Homo sapiens: one gene and its partners. The protein of the gene in region 2 purifies or fractionates together with the protein of the main gene of each other region. This does not show direct contact. Each region holds a gene or a part of one and is shown on either strand. Other genes may lie near its edges.

Region 1 (6,978 bases), on a different chromosome or scaffold from region 2:
ATGTTGAAAGTTGAGGTGGGCAAGGGAATGATTATAATGATGAATCATGGGCTCTAAATTGGACCAAGAAAGAAATGAAGAATGGATAAAGACAAATTGGTGGTATTAGCAGATTAGTGGTCTCAGTGAGGTTGAAGAATTACAGCAAATAGGGTATTAGCACAAGGAACTGAAAGGCTAGGTGTTGGTGAATGGACAGTGGGGTATTACATTTTCATATTTCAAAGATGAAGTACTTTTTGGGTGATTAAAGTGTTGACAGTGTGAGCTCAGAAGTGTTGGTTTAATTGAGGAGAAAGTTGTTGGACGTGAGAAGGTAAAAGGATTAAGAGATCAGGATACTGAATAGGTCACGAACATGGATGTTGAACTCACCCAAGGATGAAGTTCAAGGATGGTGCCAGCAGGCATCGGAAGGGGCAGGGAAAAGATTACATTGACTGGGAGGTCGGAGGATGACAACAATCAAGATGAGTGGGGTGGTCATCTGAATAGCAAGAGCTTTAAAGGGGCAGAGATATTTACAAGAGGGAGGAAACCATTAGGAAGTTCAAGGTCAACTCTAGGAACAGTACAAGCCTTTTGACTAACATCCTTGAGTGAATCACGTTCAAACCAAACCACGCGAAGCCTTTCAGTTGGGAATGCTGTATTCCAGACCTTTCCACCAGGGGGCGCGATCAGCAACGGAGAGCCTAACTACAAGCAGTCCCTCGAGGCCAGGTAAGTGTGTCTCAGCTTGAGCTCTGAGGACCCCTAGGGCTCTTCTAAGGTATTGCAAAGAGCTCAGCCATCCTCTGGCACAGCCACACACACTTGCAGAGATTTTTTTTTTTTACAGTGTATGTAAATCTTGAACAACAAAAAAATACAAATTCCTAAATTCTTTTAAAGAAGTTACTGACTTAGGCCGGGCGCGGTGGCTCACGCCTGTAATCCCAGCACTTTGGGAGGCCGAGGCAGGTGGATCACAAGGTCAGGAAATCGAGACCATCCTGGCTAACACAGTGAAACCCCGTCTTTACTAAAAACATAAAAAATTAGCCGGGCGTGGTGGCAAGAGCCCGTAGTCTCAGCTACTCGGGAGGGTGAAGTAGGAGAATGGCATGAACCCGAGAGGCAGAGCTTGCAGTGAGCCGAGATCGCGCCACTGCACTCCAGCCTGGGAGACAGAGCGAGACTCCGTCTCAAAAAAAAAAAAAAAAAAAAAAAAAAAGGAAGTTACTGACTTAGACCAGGCATGGTGGCTCACTCACGCCTGTAATCCCAGCACTTTGGGAGGCTGAGGCAGGCAGATCACCTGAGGTCAGGAGTTTGAGACCAGCCTGGCCAACATGGCAAAACTCTTGTCTCTACTAAAAATACAAAAATTAGCTGGGCATGCTGGCGGATGCCTGTAATCCCAGCTACTTTGGAGGCCGAGGCACAAGAATCTCTTGACCCCGGGAGACGGAGGTTGCAGTAAGCCGAGATCCCGCCACTTCACTCCAGCCTGGGCAACAGAGCAAGACTCCATCTCAAAAAAAAAATTACAGAATTATTAAAAGGTCTTAGTTATTATGTATTTTCTCGATGAAAAGTGACAAAGTACAGCTACTATCATGTGGAATTTGGTGACATTTCTCCCTGGGTAAAAGGGTTTTTTCATAACTGCAGGTTTTGAGAGTTGACTGGTAACACCCATACTTAAAAATGTTCTTCCCAGATCACTTTTTGCAAGCATGAGATAAGAAGAAGAATACAAAGCTGGAGTCAGAATTGTAGTAGCAGCATCAACATCAACATGAGTGTTTACTATGCACCAGAAACTGTTCTAAACATTGCACATAAATTTACTCATTTATTCCTTCTATAATCTTGGAAGGTAGGTGCTATCATTAGCACCATTTGACAGAAAATAAGGTCCAGAGAGATTAGGTCATTTGCCTAAGATGACAGAGCTCCTGGATGGTAATGTTGGTGTTGTGGACTTGAATTTCATCTTTCCATTAGCCGGAACAGTCTATGTTATGTCACAGGAACAAATACCCCTTGAATCTCACAGTTTAATTCAACAGAGGGTACCTGTTCTGTATGGGTTAGCAGGGGGGTTAAGCTTATTATGCTAACTCAGGGACTAATGCTGACACAAGGTTCGTTTTGATATATGCTTTCATCGTCATGATCAGTAATCACTACCAAGACGAAAGAGTATGGGAAAGAGTCTAAACTGGAAATGAAATGCTTCTGCTTGAAGCAATGCATGTTACTTTACACATTTCACTGACCCAAGCACATCCAATGCCACTCCCGACTTCAAGGGGACAAGAAAATGCACTTCTACCATGAGTCTATTAACAAGCAAACCAGATTGTTGGCATTAATGATTAATACAAACATTCTGAGAGCTGGAGCCGTTCGTGTCCTCCTTTGGCTTCAGCTTCCCTATCCACAAAAAGACCATGATCATTTTGTAAGAATCTCTTGTTGTAAGGATCAAAGAGCCACATTTGTTACAGCTATAATGAGGCAGAATGGTTGCATCCAACCAAAGCTTCCATCAGCTGAAAATCTTGATCCCACCACAGGCAGCCCTGTAGCCCTCCTTACTGGGCTGTCTGCAGAATGGCCTTTGTCCAGATGAAGGTACATGCCAATCTTTTTGTCACTCACACACCTGAGGTTTTGAAGGACATAGTTTTCACTTCAATCAACAACATGCCATAGTGGTCCTGGCCTTTGCTAGAAATTTTGGTCTGGAACCACCAGCTGTTCAGTTCCTGTTGAAAGTTCCAGACCACTTTAGCTTGATAGAGATTGCGAGGGTCTCCTTCTTCCAGGTCCTCCAAACCCTCTCTTTAAATCAAGTCAGGCCACCAGGACTGTTTACTTGGCCCCTCAGAGTTTCCACAGACACTCCCAGGACGTCTGCTGTGAGTCAGGGATGAGCTAAGCCATAGAAATTCCTTTGCCAACCACAAGCCCTGAGGGTAGTACAAAAAATACCCCTAAAAAGAGCATTTCCCAAACTTCTATGCAAACAGTAGTAACCACACTGCCAATCACCCTCCAGAGTGCTTTGCTAGATCCTTTCCTATGGGGCCATTTGACCCTTCCTCACTCCTCTGCTAGCCTAGGCAGTGCACTCCATGAGGACGGGGACTACCTTTTCATGTGGGTTTCACTATGTGCCTGGCACACAGCACGTTCTCAATAAATGTTTTCCGCATTAAGACGCTTCTTAGGAGTCTTCATGTAAGTTCATACACGACTTCCTTGTAGAATTGTGTCAATGAACATGCAATTAGGCTAGCTGAACTTCAGGCCCTGAGAGTCTATGAAGCTAAAATAAGGCCCAGATGTGGGGTGGGAGGGGGAGTAGGCAGAGGCGGCAAAGGAGGACATTTCAGGCAAAGGGAGCAGATGTCCAGGCAGGAAAGCACAAGGTAACGGGGGCACAGGGGGCGCACCACTTTTCCTGGAAGGAAAAAACAGCAGATGAGAGAAGGAGGTTGGAGCCAGTTACCAGTAGAGGTCTATGTTCAAAGTCCAGAAGGAAGAAACAGCAGGACGGGGACAAAGAGAGGAAGGAGGAAAGGAGGCACGGTGTATGAAACTCTGTAGCCAAGAGCGCTAACAAATGAAAGGCAGGATGGGTGGAGGAAATGTACTGTGTTCCAAAGCTTCCTCTTATTTATGGGTGCTCCCGGGCCACAGAGGAGTAAACTGAAGGACTTCCCAGCTCCCCACTGCCCAGAGAGCTAGCGGAGTCCCGCCTCGCCCCGTCACATGGCCAGAGGCGCCCTCGGCACGTGACCTACCTCGCGCTAGGCCAATCAGCCTCTGCAGGGGCGGGGCCACCGAGTCCGCGGGGCGGGAGTCTCCGTCGGAGCCGCCTCTTCTCGCGATCCTTGCGGCGGTCGCTCCTCAGCCGCCCACGACCCGGAGCGAAGGTCTCGCGAGGCCTGGGCGCTGCGGCGGCAGGAGGAGGACGGGGAAGGACGGAGCCGAGCCGCGGCTGCCTCCCTCGCTCACTCCCTCGCGCACTCGCCCGCCCCCTCCCTCCCTCCCCTCCCTTCCCCGGCCCCGGCTCTGGCCCCGGCCCATTCGCTGTTGGGTCTTCTGCTAGGGAGGATGTCGGGTTCGTCGCTGCCCAGCGCCCTGGCCCTCTCGCTGTTGCTGGTCTCTGGCTCCCTCCTCCCAGGGCCAGGCGCCGCTCAGAACGGTAAGCGGGGCGCCGGGGGCGGGCCGGGCGGGGGTTGAGGGGCGCCGGGGCCGGAGGGGGCCCGGCTCTGGCCTGAGGAGACGCTGGAGCTCGGGGAAGGGGGCCGAGTGGGCGTCTGAGGGGCTGCGGGTCCGAGAGGAGGTACCGGCTGCGGGTTTGAGGAGGCGCGGGTGTGAGGACCGGAGGCTCCTATCCGAGCGGCGGGGGCGTCCGGGGTGAGCCCGAGGTGTTGCCCACTCGGAGGCTCCACGTCGTGGGGCTCGTCGTGCCGGGTCGGCGAGGGGACACGGAGGAAGCCGACGTGGGGAGCTGGAGTAGCGGGGGCGGATGAGGAGGGGGCGCAGCTCTTAGGGAGGGTGGCACAAGACCGGCGTTTGTGTTCCGGGCGACGGGGATGGTGGTGTCCGTCAGGCCCCCCGGGAGCTGGGGTCGTCCAGGATTCTACTGAGGCCCCGTAGGACTGGTGACATCCTTAAAAATAAGGGGGAAATTGGGGGGAAGAGAGTCCTGAGGAACACTAATGGTGAGCTGAGTACTAGAGACCAAAGGAGGGGGTAAAGAATCAGGGAACCTTGGATCTAGGGATAGAGGGAAGGTGGGTGGGAAGATGAGGGAGTGGGTTGACTGCAGTAGGGGACCTGGAGAGAGAAGCAGCAGTGTCTCCAAATGAGCTGGGGGAAGAGGGCTGGGTTTGCTAAAGAGGGTGGAGTGCTGGGCATTCTAGGGTAGTGGTTGGGAGAGCAAAAAGGAGTTTCTAAATAAGGAGAGGAAAATGAGCAGAGGATGGAGGGAAAGGGTTGGAACTGAGGTGGGGGAATATTTATTAGAGAAGTAAGGAGGCCTGGGTATAGAGATGGGGGTGGGGGAAGACGAAAAATAAGGGAAGGGAGTAAAATGCAGGAAGTCGGGGGTGTAATGTTGGTTTGCAGTGTGGAGGATAAATTAGGGAAGGGAGGAGTTGGGATGTGGCAAATGCTGTATGATATTGGTCGGGCCTTTGGGAAAACAGGGACACATAGCTGCAACTAATTGCAGTGGTGGGATTGAGGGCAGTGACTGGCGACAGGGAGATGGGGAAGTGGATTTTTGAGATTTAAAAGTTTCAAGACAGAAGAGACGTTATTTCCGAGGAACATGAAAGTGGCCCCTGGGAGGTGGTACAGTAGAAAGCAGAGAATTACTGGGTTTTGAATTGAAGCTCCTTTGAGAAGATGGAGAAGTGGTGGGGAATCATGGGCATAGGGACCTAAACAGAGCAGATTCTGATTGAAGACATGTGTTAGCATTCAGCTGCTGAATTGATCTTTCACAAGTGAGTCTAGGATTGTGAACCTGTTTCTGCCCTTGTGGAAACAGCCATTAAGAGGTTAAAGAATATTTTTTCTGTGAAGGAATTTATGAGAAGTCAGTACTGGAGAGTGAACTATAAATTATTTTTGCTAATCTTTCATTGTTTATTGTTAGGCCAGAACAATTTATGATTACTCTTATTAGAGAGGCTGCAATTTAAATTTTAAAAAATCAGTGATAGAGCCAGTGGAGTTTTTTGAGAAACTGGGTTTAAAATGCTGAATGTTAGAGTTTGTTTCATTATTCCTAAAACGAATAAAGGATTGACAATATCCATCAGTTAAATATGTGTTCGTAGTACCAAATTTTATGTGTGCTTCATGGCCTTGGATATCACTGCAGGGGTCAGGAAGGAAACATTTTTTCTGTCTCTAGCATTGAATATGCTAAGTGTATTGGGTATTTTTCCTGTTTTCCTCTAAGCATGAGTCCACTGTGGAAGGCAGGGTAGAGTTAGTCTTATTTGTCTTATCAGTTTTTCGACTGTGTCAACATGACTTAAAGAAGCCTAATGCTAATTTTAGCTATTCAGTTTATGGTAATAGCATAGTTTCATTTTGCACAATAGGTGAGAGATTCTTGATCTTAACATGTTTAATCTCTGCTGGCTTAGCTTTTTTCCAATGATTTATAATACGGTAAAATTGTAGTTTCTTAGCAACTAAAGCAAGGTTTCTGGATAGGCCTATAAAGACTCATCTGTCTGCTCAGTGATATGTGTTCTAAATACAGCATAGAACGGCCTTTCCCTTGAAATGAGCTTGAATTCAGTCACATGACATGACCGATGAAATGAAGCTGAGCTGCTGGTTGACCCAAATGAATGTAAATTTAATTCAAGGAAGAGATGGCTATTTTTGAGTTTGAGTTCCTATAGTTATGGATGCCATTTTATAGCTTTCTATATAACATGTCTTATTATAATATTCAAGCTTTCAGCTGGTAATAAATAGCCCTGCAGTGATCTGACTTCATGTCATGGAGTTTGTGTTTTCTTACAGTGCTTTCAAAAAGGGATACCTTGCTTGTGCATGATGTTGAAATGTTAGAAATGTTAGATTTTCTATTTAAATGACTGGAGAAAAAAACTCACAAGTATCTCTGAATTGGGAATGTAGTAGTTTAGATTGAATATAGATGTTTTTCAAAAGGCATTTGTTTCATTATTCCTAAAATGAAGAATTTGGCCTGTATGACTCTCAAGGTCTCTTGAAGCTCCAGTGAGTTTCTGACCCATTGTTGTGGACATTCAGGGCTTTCATTCAGATGGATTTTGTTTCTCATCCAAGAATTTAAACTTGTAAGACCAATTCCAAGTAAAATCCTTATTTGTTGACTTCTATATGTATCATCAAAATGGTAGTTTAAAGAGGAACTTGTTCTAAAAAGTAACCTTATAAGACATTCAAAAGCATTAGACTGCA
Region 2 (7,039 bases):
CATAGACACCTGCCCTGGCAGAACATCTGTCACTTCTTAGCAGGCAGAAAGGGGGTTGAAAGCCAAAAGCACCTTTGGAAACCCTAAACTGCCAGGACCTGGACCCTTAGAAGCTCAAAAGCTAAGACATAATCTCTTCTCTGTATCTTAAGTTTGGCTGTGACCGACCTTCCCCTGGGATAGTGGAGGCCAAAGTCTAGTGCAAAGACAAGGAGATAAAGGGCTCACTGTCTCTTTCGCAGGACCACACTTTGAACCCAACAATATTTGGATTCAAGCACGTTAAAAGCTCCCTGGCGAGTTTATTGTACTGCTACTTACGGCTACACATGTGTGCGCTCAGGTGCATGTCCTCAGCCTTCCAGGCACCTGTCAGGTGACAGAGTAAGCCTAATTCTACTAGGTGGCCCTCACGGTCTCTGTCCAGAAGCAGCAGTGTGGAGCAGAGAGTCCTGGACGGGAATCCAGGATTGTGGGGCTCTAGCCTGGCCACCACCACTGCGGAGCTCTGGGACTTTGGGCAGATTAGACTCCATTTTCTTCAAGCCCAGTCTCCACGTCTGGAAGTCAGGGATAACTGCGCTTGCCTTACCTCCTTCACGGGGGTTGTTGTAAAGACGAAGTTAAATACCATGTCTGTGAAAGCGCTCTGGAAACTTTCTGGCACTAAGCAAATGCCAGGGACTGTGTATTCCCCAAACCCACAGGGCGTGCCCCTCCTGTTCTCAGAGGCCAAGCAAATGGCGCCTCTGTCCCTGATGCAAAGTGCACACCAGCAGCTTCCCAGGAACATGTTCTAGATGCTGGACGGGAATCTAGAACATGTTGGTAAGGAATCCTTTCCATGGCGTAGGCCAAAGGACAATGTGGTGTGGTATGGAATGACCCCATGGCTGGCTGCAGCCTGTTTCTTAGTGGGAGGGTTGACAGGCCCCAGAACTGTGCAGGTAGGTCTTGGGATTCCAAACAGAGGACAGGTGCCCTCTGTGGGGGACTAACGGGGCAGAGAACATCAGCCCAGTAAGAGGGTCCAGACTGGCCCTGCTCCAAGGGCAAGAAGACCTGACATGAAATCTGCTTTCACTTCCACTAAAAGGAACCAGGGCTTCTTAGGGAAATGGCCAATTCCAGGCCTGGGGTAGGGAATGTACAAGATGAGCCAAGAGTGTCTTCACATACAAGGAGGCAAAGACACTGTCAACCACCACAAATGTCATGTCAAAGGGATTCAGAGCCAACGTGAGAAGGCTCCTACTGGCCGAGATGGGACAGTGTGGGTGTCAATAAGGATAGAATTGCCATTGTTTAAAATACATCAAATATGCTTAAATCCTCAAATTCCTAATGATACTCCCCCTCATGCCCTCACAAAAGGAAAAATTCATTAGCTACTTTGGCGGATACTAGGAAATTGATTCTTTTTTTTTTTTTAACTCATAAATGGAGGTTGAAACCCAACCTATTTATCCTGTCTTCCCTAAGTGAGCTGTAGTTCAGGGCAACCAAACCACTGAGGAGCCAAGTTTCTCTCTCTAGGAGTATTCTAGCTAAATAAATGAGGAAGGAGTGATGGACCAAGATGGTGGCCATGGAGCCACCCCTAATGCATTAGTGGACCAGGCAATAATCATCAATGGCTGCTAATATCACAAAAGGAGAGACAGGCAGACATTTCGTGTCCCCTGATGGGATGCAGTAGGAGGAACCACCACCCGTAAGGCAGATATGCCAAAGATTCAAACTTGAATCTGATTAAACCTCTAAGTCCATCTGCCAACTTGCAAAAAAAAAAAAAAAAAAAAAAAAGGCTATGGGATAGAACCTGCTGTGTAACACCACGGACGTGAGATGAGCAAAGCCCAGATGATAGGAAACTCCAATCTAAGGACAAACTACTAGTTTTGCCATCTAATAAATTGTGAAGGAAAAACCAGGAGGGGAACCTGTACATTAGTGGGACTCGAGGGGCGTATCAGATAGCTGCTATGTAGAGCCCTCATTTGGATGTTGGTACAAAGTGAAAAAAAAAAAAAAAAAGACAAATGGAAAAATGTTAATGTTAATTAGATACTTGATAATATTGAGGAATTATTAATTGTTAAGTGTTATCGTGGTATTGTGGTTGTGATTTAAAACTTGTCTCCTTTAGAGGTACATACTGAAATAGATGAGATGCTAATTTCTAAGATTTGCTTTAAAATAATTGGATTTAGACTAGCCAGGACCTGACAGTTGTTGAAGCTGGACAATGGGGTATTTTACAGGATAAATGTTTGACATGTTCCCTTACAAAAGGATTATTAGAAAAAGGTAATTATGAAATATGATAGATAGGTAAATCTGTCTGTAGTCATCATTTCATGATGGATATTATATATATAAATTTAAAATGTTTAAGAATATTAGAAATCTATTATTTTTATCTTTTTTTTTAAATTCGGCTTTAAACCGTCTTCTAAATATATTCATTTTGCAACAAGCTGAGACACAAAATCAGTCAAGGGACTCAGAGTGGCAAGAAACCTACATTCCCATTGGATTAATTCCACAAATATTTATTGAGCACCTACTGCATACCAGGTTCTCTTCTAGACACTGGGGATATGGCAGGGGCCAAAACTAAACTTCGCTGCTTTCATAGTTCCTCTGTTTTTAGCAAACACATAGATAATACTTGCCAGGTCCCAGGCATTGTTCTAAGCACCCAACATGTATGAATTCATTGCATTCTCACAACAACCCTTGGAGTTACATAGAATTATTATCCCCATTTTCCATGTGAAAAAAACTGAGGGAAGAGAAGTTGAGTCCCTTGCCCAAGGTCATACAGCAAGTGTGTAGGATTGGAACCCGAAGTCCACACTTCGCTCCTCTCTCCCATCAGCACGATCCACCCGCTAGAATGTCCAGAGCCCGAGGTGATGAGCCCAACTCACTTGCTTTTCCGCAAGGCGTGCTCCACACTGTGCCCGCGGAACTTCTTGTAGTAGTCAATGAAGGAGAAGGGCAGGGTGATGTTCAGCGGGTTAGTTCTGTCTGGGGCAGCCGCCCTTTTGCGAGACTCAAACGCAATCATTAAGTCAACCCAGGCTGCAGGGCGTTTGATTTTGAATTGTTCAATAAAATCCTCTCCAAATATTTTATACAGAAGTTTTTCGAACTCATAATCTACTCCTAAAGATCCATAGGGTCCGCCTGAATTGAGAACAAAAAGGGAGGCCATGGTGTTAAAAACCATTAGAAACCCAATCCAGACTCTGAGAAACAGGCCCACCTGTTCATCTCTGAGCCACTTAGCAATGGGACGGCAGCTATAAGTGTTTACTTACACTTCAGAACCCTGCGCTGCTTCTCATTCCATGTGGAGAAGCTTTTCCCTACAGAAATCTCTTGTCAACAATCTTTACTTTATTATTTTATTTTTGTGTTTTCTTTTTTTTGAGACAAAGTTTTCACCCTTGTTGCCCAGGCTGGAGTGCAGTGGCACAATCTTGGCTCACTGCAATCTCCGCCTCCTGGGTTGAAGTGATTCTCCTGCTTCAGCCTCCCGAGTAGCTGAGATACAGGCACGCACCACCATGCCCGGCTAATTTTTGTATTTTTAGTAGAGATGGGATTTTGCCATGTTGGCCAGGCTGGTCTCAAACTCCTGACCTCAGGTGATCCACCTGCCTTGGCCTCTCAAAGTTCTGGGATTACAGGCATGAGCCACCACTCCCAGCCAACAATCTATTTTAAATCAATTACATTTTTTAAAAAATCAATAATTTTATCTAACTAGGACCATTATGGTATTCCAATCCAAGACATCCAAGGGCGGGGGCTGGAAAATCAGCAGGCCTGGTCTAGTCCCTGTGTGATCCTCTAATTACTTATTATCCTTTCCCCTCCAACCTCCCAAAAGGGAAACAGCATGTTCTTTGGTTTAGCAATCTTTTTTTGAGAGTCTCGCTCTGTCACCCAAGTTGGAGTGCAGTGGCGCAATGTCTGCTCACTGCAACCTCTGCCTCCTGGGTTCAAGCAATTCTCCTGCCTCAGCCACCTGAGTAGCTGGGGCTACAGGTGTGCACCACCACGCCCAGCTAATTTTTGTATTTTTAGTAGAGACAGGGTTTCATCATGTTGGCCATGCTGGTCTCCAACTCCTGACCTCAAGTGATCTGCCTGCTTGGCCTCCCAAAGTGCTGGGATTACAGGCGTGAGCCACCGCACTTGGCCAATGGTTTGGCAATCTTGATCCAAGACAAGGTGAGGCCTCCCTAGAAAGTTCACCTTAGCACGGTCATGGGCAACATCAAGTTGCAATCTCATCCTTTCGGAATTTTCAGAAACCAGCGCCCTTGGCCAGGATCTGAAACAGGCTCGCTTTAGGCCAAAACCCAAGTTGTGGTGGTTTGTGTTTTAAAGAATGTTTAATTGCATTTTGCTTTCCAATTTCAAGCAGACATTAGTATCCTCCACCGCCTACGATCCCACATGTTAGTGGCATTCAAGAGAATAAAACTGAGAGTTATCTGAAACAAGTGAAAACAGAACTGCCTGGAATTGGCTCAGGAATAAGAAAATTAGCCCTGCAGGGCCTCACCTGTTGCTTTATACAGTTCCTTAAGGTGTCCCTCCGGTAACCGGATCTGATGGACTGTCAGGTCTACGGTGCCACCGCCACTGTCCACAACCACATACTTATCACCTGGCACAAAAACAGCCATCTTTTACACAGACTGTTTGCCAACCCCATCTGAAACAAGCTTGTGGGTGGTAACTAGGTAGACCCAGCTAAGTGCCCTCAAAACTTCTCATTAGCACAATGGTTTTGCTAATTAGCAGCTCTAGGAGTTAACCATGACCAAAGAGAATGCAATCTGCCCAGGAGGATGGTTAGACATGGACGATGGAGAACCCAGGTGAGTGAATCTAAGATTCACACATTGCTGCATACCTGGCACGTACTTAGTGGGCAGTTTCCTGCCACGTGAATAGTGAGTGCCCTAAAATCATCTGCGTTTCACCAAAGACTTACTCTGGAACTGATCAATTCCAATCCCTACCTGGTTTTACAACATGCAAAATTACAGCTCCCAAAAGAGCTCTCCCTGCATGAGTGGTCTTTAGAACCCACTGAGTTTGAACATTTTCCAAAAGTGCAAAAGGGACAAATGGGAATGGCTTTTCACGAGCAGCACAGGAAAATCCAGCAAGAGCAAAGGACATTGAAGGACGCTACCTTCCTCCAGCTCGGACCAGATTTCTCCTATGACATTCTCCACCAAAAAGGTCCGACTCTGCCGATTACGCCGTATGTGTTCCTTAGCTAGTGGCCGACAGAAAGAAAATGATGACGGGTAAGAAAGCATGAAAAAGCAGAGATCATTTGCAGTCAGTGAAGGCAATAGCATGAGGAGATTTAGGGATGGAACATTAGTGACATTTGACCAAAATAAGTCAATACGATGTCGGGAATCACAAAGCCAGCTCTTCCCAGAGAAAGTGATTTCCACCGGCCTTCCTCTATTCCTCGGCTTAGCCTGTGCCCAGCTGAAAAGCCCACCCTGATGAGATTCTCACAACAACCCTTGGAATTAGGTGGAATTATTATCCCCATTTTCCACGTGAAAAAAACTGAAAGAAGAGAATGTGGTCAAATGTGCGCCACTGCACTCCAACTTGGGTGACAGAGCGAGACTCTCAAATGAGACCTACCCTGGTCACATTTTTTGGAGAATGGGTTAATGAAATCGCCTAGTTTCCCGGCTTTGCTGCCCCAGGGAGGAAGCTATCTGCCAAACAGCCTGCAGTGCGCTCAGTTAAACAATTCCAAATCAAGGAATTTTGTCTGATACAAGGAATTTGGGGTGTGTTTTCCTAACATGCACCCTGGGTAAATAGACTGGGGGGGGGGGCCATTTCCTGACCCAGCTGAAGCCAATATGCATTGCGGCCACAAGGTGGCGCGTCTGGGCCTGGCAAACCCCTGTGCTGCCTTTTCCATGAACACAGGGACAACCTCCGCTCCTGCTGTGGCTTGAGGTGCTGAGTGGCGGAGACGCCTATGTGGCTATGAGAGGGCACAAATCATTGTCCCTATGTTCGGAGAAGGAAATCAGGTCAGGAAAGGTTAAGGGGCTTGCAGTTCCCACAATTTTTTTTTCTTTGAGACGGAGTCTCGCTCTGTCTCCCAGGCTGGAGTGCAGTGGTGCGATCTCGGCTCACTGCAAGCTCCGCCTCCCGGGTTCACGCCATTCTCCTGCCTCAGCCTCCCAAGTAGCTGGGACTACAGGCACCCGCCACCTCGCCCGGCTAATTTTTTTTTTTTTTTTTTTTTGTATTTTTAGTAGAGACGGGGTTTCACCGTGGTCTGGATTTCCTGACCTCGTGATCCGCCTGCCTCGGCCTCCCAAAGTGCTGGGATTACAGGTGTAAGCCACCACGCCCGGCCCCACAATTCTTTTCTTGCAGCCTGAAATTAACCCTTAGACCTTAGGCCCTCGTGCCTTTGAGATTTAACAACAGTGCCCGGCGCCACCCCCATAGTGCTCTCACTTAGCGCTCATATTGGTGCCTTGACCCTGACAGGGCGTGTCTGCAAACCCTATAGCCCTCGACACACCCACAGAGCCCTGGATACCAGGGAACCAAGTTCTGTGACCAAGGCTATGACCTACTTGCATTCAGGTAATTATTAAAGAGGAAAAGCTTTTTAAAATCGCCATCCTCAGTCTCCCTAAGGCGGTGCTCCTTCCCACAGCTAAGCGAGCGTCACCTAGGTCAGGAAAAGTCAGCCGGTTTCATCTGCATTTTAAACTCATCGCACATGAAGCAGACCCAATGAGTGACTCAGCAATAAATCAACAGTCTTAATGGAGAATTAATAACAGGCAATGGAATTAGATTAAGAATCTGTTAATACACAAGAAAGATTAAGAGCCTAGTACAATGTGAGGCCAATAACCGCTCTCAGGCTACCCTCAGATTCTTAGAGAGAAGCTCCCCGCCCCCAGACACTTGGTGGGTGATGAACCAGGGTAACCATGCCTCCATT
Region 3 (4,132 bases), on a different chromosome or scaffold from region 2:
CACTGTGCTCAACCCATCTTCGTTTTCTTTTGTTTTGTTTTGTTTTTGAGACAGAGTCTCACTCTGTCACCCCGACTGGAGTGCAGTGGCGCAATCTCAGCTCACTGCAACCTCAGTCTCCCAGGTTCAAGCGATCCTCCTGCCTCAGCCTCCTGAGTAGCTGGGATTACAGATAACACACCACCATGCCCAGCTTAGTTTTGTATTTTTAGTAGAGACGGAGTTTCCCCCAGGATGGTCTTGAACTCCTGACCTCAAGTGATCTGCCCGCCTCGGCCTCCTAAAGTGCTGGGATTACAGGCATGAGCCACCGCACCCAGCCCTATCTTTGTTTTTTGTTTGTTTGTTTGTTTTTGAGACAGAATCTCGCTCTGTCGCCAGGCTGGAGTGCAGTGGCACAATCTCAGCTTACTGCAACCTCCACCTCCTGGGTTCAAGCGATTCTCCTGCCTCAGCCTCCCGAATAGCAGGGACTATAGGTGCATGCCACCATGCCCAGCTTATTTTTGTATTTTTAGTGGAGACAGGGTTTCAACATGTTGGCCAGGATGGTCTCGATCTCTTTACCTCATGATCTGCCCTCCTCAGCTTCACAAAGTGCTGGGATTACAGGCATGAGGCACCGCGCCCGGCCCCATCTTTGTTTTTTTAATGGAGTTAAACTATGGTATTATTAGGTCACTTTGACAACTATCCTGTTGTTAATAAATGAGAGAGAAAAAGGAGATTTTATTTACGCTGATTCTTCCTCCTCCTACAGTTAAACTCATTGTCTGTTTGGAAGACCAGAATGTGAAGACAAGTAGTAGAAGAAAATGAATGCTGCTGCTGAGACTGAAGACCAGTATTTCAGAACTTTGAGAATTGGAGAGCAGGCACATCAACTGATCTCATTTCTAGAGAGCCCCTGACAATCCTGAGGCTTCATCAGGAGCTAGAGCCATTTAACATTTCCTCTTTCCAAGACCAACCTACAATTTTCCCTTGATAACCATATAAATTCTGATTTAAGGTCCTAAATTCTTAACCTGGAACTGGAGTTGGCAATACCTAGTTCTGCTTCTGAAACTGGAGTATCATTCTTTACATATTTATATGTATGTTTTAAGTAGTCCTCCTGTATCTATTGTATATTTTTTTCTTAATGTTTAAGGAAATGTGCAGGATACTACATGCTTTTTGTATCACACAGTATATGATGGGGCATGTGCCATAGTGCAGGCTTGGGGAGCTTTAAGCCTCAGTTATATAACCCACGAAAAACAGAGCCTCCTAGATGTAACATTCCTGATCAAGGTACAATTCTTTAAAATTCACTAATGATTGAGGTCCATATTTAGTGGTACTCTGAAATTGGTCACTTTCCTATTACACGGAGTGTGCTAAAACTAAAAAGCATTTTGAAACATACAGAATGTTCTATTGTCATTGGGAAATTTTTCTTTCTAACCCAGTGGAGGTTAGAAAGAAGTTATATTCTGGTAGCAAATTAACTTTACATCCTTTTTCCTACTTGTTATGGTTGTTTGGACCGATAAGTGTGCTTAATCCTGAGGCAAAGTAGTGAATATGTTTTATATGTTATGAAGAAAAGAATTGTTGTAAGTTTTTGATTCTACTCTTATATGCTGGACTGCATTCACACATGGCATGAAATAAGTCAGGTTCTTTACAAATGGTATTTTGATAGATACTGGATTGTGTTTGTGCCATATTTGTGCCATTCTTTTAAGAACAATGTTGCAACACATTCATTTGGATAAGTTGTGATTTGACGACTGATTTAAATAAAATATTTGCTTCACTTAGATTTGCTGGTTTTATTAGATACCAGGAAGCCTGGGACATATGTGTACCACATTAGAATTCTAAAGATAATGATTGATAAGCTAGAACTTTCTGATGTAGTCATTACATGAAACCCCTTGTCACTGGTTTGTGTGTTCAGAGGAAGCCATGGCCGAGATAGCTTTCCTGAAATAAACCAGTAGCTTTTCAGATTGACGTTCTTGCTACAATTGTACCATCTGGTAATTCCTGAAAATGTCAATTTTTTTGTGTTAATATTTTTGGTTTCAAACAATAACAAATGTCTCTAGAAAGAAATTTTAAGAAAGCTTAATTAATAGTAAAAATGCCTTTCCTGAAATAATCTTGGAAAATTTTTTAAATGTCAAAATGATGAGTCATGCTAATACATTGAGGGTTTGTTTTTTTGTTTGTTTGTTTGTTTGTTTTTGAGACAGAGTTTCGCTCTTGTTGCCCAGGCTGGAGTGCAATGGCACGATCTCAGCTCACCGCAACCTCCACCTCCCGGATTCCAGCGATTCTCCTGCCTCAGCCTACATTAAGGGTTTTGTCAGACAATTGTCACACGAAGAATAGTGTCACTTATCTACTCTTGACACACAGAACTGGCCTGGCATATAGCTTTCCAGATTTTACTCAAACTTGGTACTCCAGTTTGAAAATTTAAATTTTGACTGCTGATTAGCTGGAAAGCCTAGTTTTAATGGAAAGAAAGTTTGCTTTTAAAACTGAAAGTAGTTTCTTTTTGCTAACAAATCTAACTTCATACATAATTGGCCATATTAGTAAAACACCTCATGATAGCAGTGTATATATAGTCTTGTTTGTAGTTGGAAGTCATCTTTTAGGAGTTATTCTCAAATATATATAATAGCTACCCATGCATCATTATTAAAATCCCCAAATTCAAAAAACCTCTGATATATATATATAATTTTTTTTTTTTTTTTTTTTTGGCCAACTGAGATTGAAATCCAAGTGCTGGTTTCTAGTTCTGAACATCAACTAAAGAGTTTTGGAAATGACAGCAATTTATAACAAGTTCATATTGACTTCCTCTCTATGGCAGGAAGACATTCTGTGCTGTTTTGAACAGATTAAAGATTTGTGTAGTTTGTGGGAAATTGACGTTTTTGTTTAAATTCCACCCGCGTTTGTCTTTTCCTACCACCTGTGGCCAGGTGCTCGCTGGCCATCACAGTTGCGATTCCATGAGTAGCTGCTTTATGACTGCTTTTTGTACTATCTGGATGTGCCCAGAGTTACTTCTGTACAAGCTCTGTATCTATGTCCGTTGAGAACATTATTTTAACAAGAAGAACACCAACAGTAGCATGAAATATAATACTGTTTTATAATTCTAAAGCTGCTGTTAATTTATGAAGTACATAATAATCTAATGTAAACTGCAGAAGTCAGAGCAAGTGCCTACATTTTGTTATTTTTGGCATTACTACAGAGCCATGTACAATAGAAAGCAATGCAAGACTTGTAAACTCTCACCACTTCTTGTAATATCAAATGTTCCCCCTCAGGTTATTTTGCTTATGGTACCCATGAGTTGCCTCTCTCTGTACATAGATAAATTGTTCCAATATTTTCCTTTGATGTTTGGAACTACAGATAGTCAAGGGCTGGAAATTTTAGTTTTCAATATAAGCTTCCAGCTTAGCAATTACCTCTAGTCGAAGACAATATTTGATTCCTAGTTCTGTTTGGGGCAAATTTTCATTTATCTAAATAAAATGCAATCTAATTAAATGCCATGGATTTTCTTTCTGTAATTTCACTGTGATTCAGTTTCCATTGCTTTTCTCTTGTCTGTTGTGATATTCGTCATACATTTAAGCTCTGCTTTTAACTACTTAGCACCCTTTGTTCATAGAGCATCATGAGAGTTTGGAATGAATGTATCTAGGATAGGCGTGAGTCCACAAAGATCTCTATTCATGATCATAACCTTTTTGGGTCCTGGGCTCCTTTAATTAGAATCTCATTAAGCTTCTAGCTGACCTCGGACTCCCCAATATAAAGTTTTATGTACAGTTTTTGGATAGTCACACAAACCTTCTCTGAAATGCCAACCAATAACCAGAACCAGAGTTAGAACCTCTTTCTCCAACCCTGTAAGAAAGGAAATGGACGCAGTCCAAGGATTCCCAGATAGTAGCAGAGCTCGGAACCGGAACACAAAATCAGTGTCACATAAATTCAAATCTACATGACTATTTCTTTTAAACATTTATTTGTATTTTGATTTCATATTTTGTAGAGATGGGGTCTGGCTCTGTCACACAGGCCGGAAGGCAGTGATGCCATCAGA

What was found.
Region 1: the proteins of HSPA12A (region 2) and NPTN purify together in Homo sapiens (co-immunoprecipitation; 2 studies listed by BioGRID and IntAct, with this or other methods). This does not show direct contact.
Region 3: the proteins of HSPA12A (region 2) and AKAP12 purify together in Homo sapiens (affinity purification with mass spectrometry; 3 studies listed by BioGRID and IntAct, with this or other methods). This does not show direct contact.

What each region holds. Positions count from the first base shown.
Region 1 is NC_000015.10:73,630,351-73,637,328, reverse strand, and holds the start of NPTN (neuroplastin isoform b precursor), read left to right. Parts: upstream 1-3,939; 5' UTR 3,940-4,113; coding exon 4,114-4,204; intron 4,205-6,978. UniProt on the Homo sapiens protein: Probable homophilic and heterophilic cell adhesion molecule involved in long term potentiation at hippocampal excitatory synapses through activation of p38MAPK. May also regulate neurite outgrowth by activating the FGFR1 signaling pathway.
Region 2 is NC_000010.11:116,676,567-116,683,605, forward strand, and holds part of HSPA12A (heat shock 70 kDa protein 12A), read right to left. Parts: intron 5,312-7,039; coding exon 5,225-5,311; intron 4,691-5,224; coding exon 4,586-4,690; intron 3,196-4,585; coding exon 2,937-3,195; intron 1-2,936. UniProt on the Homo sapiens protein: Adapter protein for SORL1, but not SORT1. Delays SORL1 internalization and affects SORL1 subcellular localization.
Region 3 is NC_000006.12:151,354,967-151,359,098, forward strand, and holds the end of AKAP12 (A-kinase anchor protein 12), read left to right. Parts: intron 1-760; 3' UTR 761-3,593; downstream 3,594-4,132. UniProt on the Homo sapiens protein: Anchoring protein that mediates the subcellular compartmentation of protein kinase A (PKA) and protein kinase C (PKC).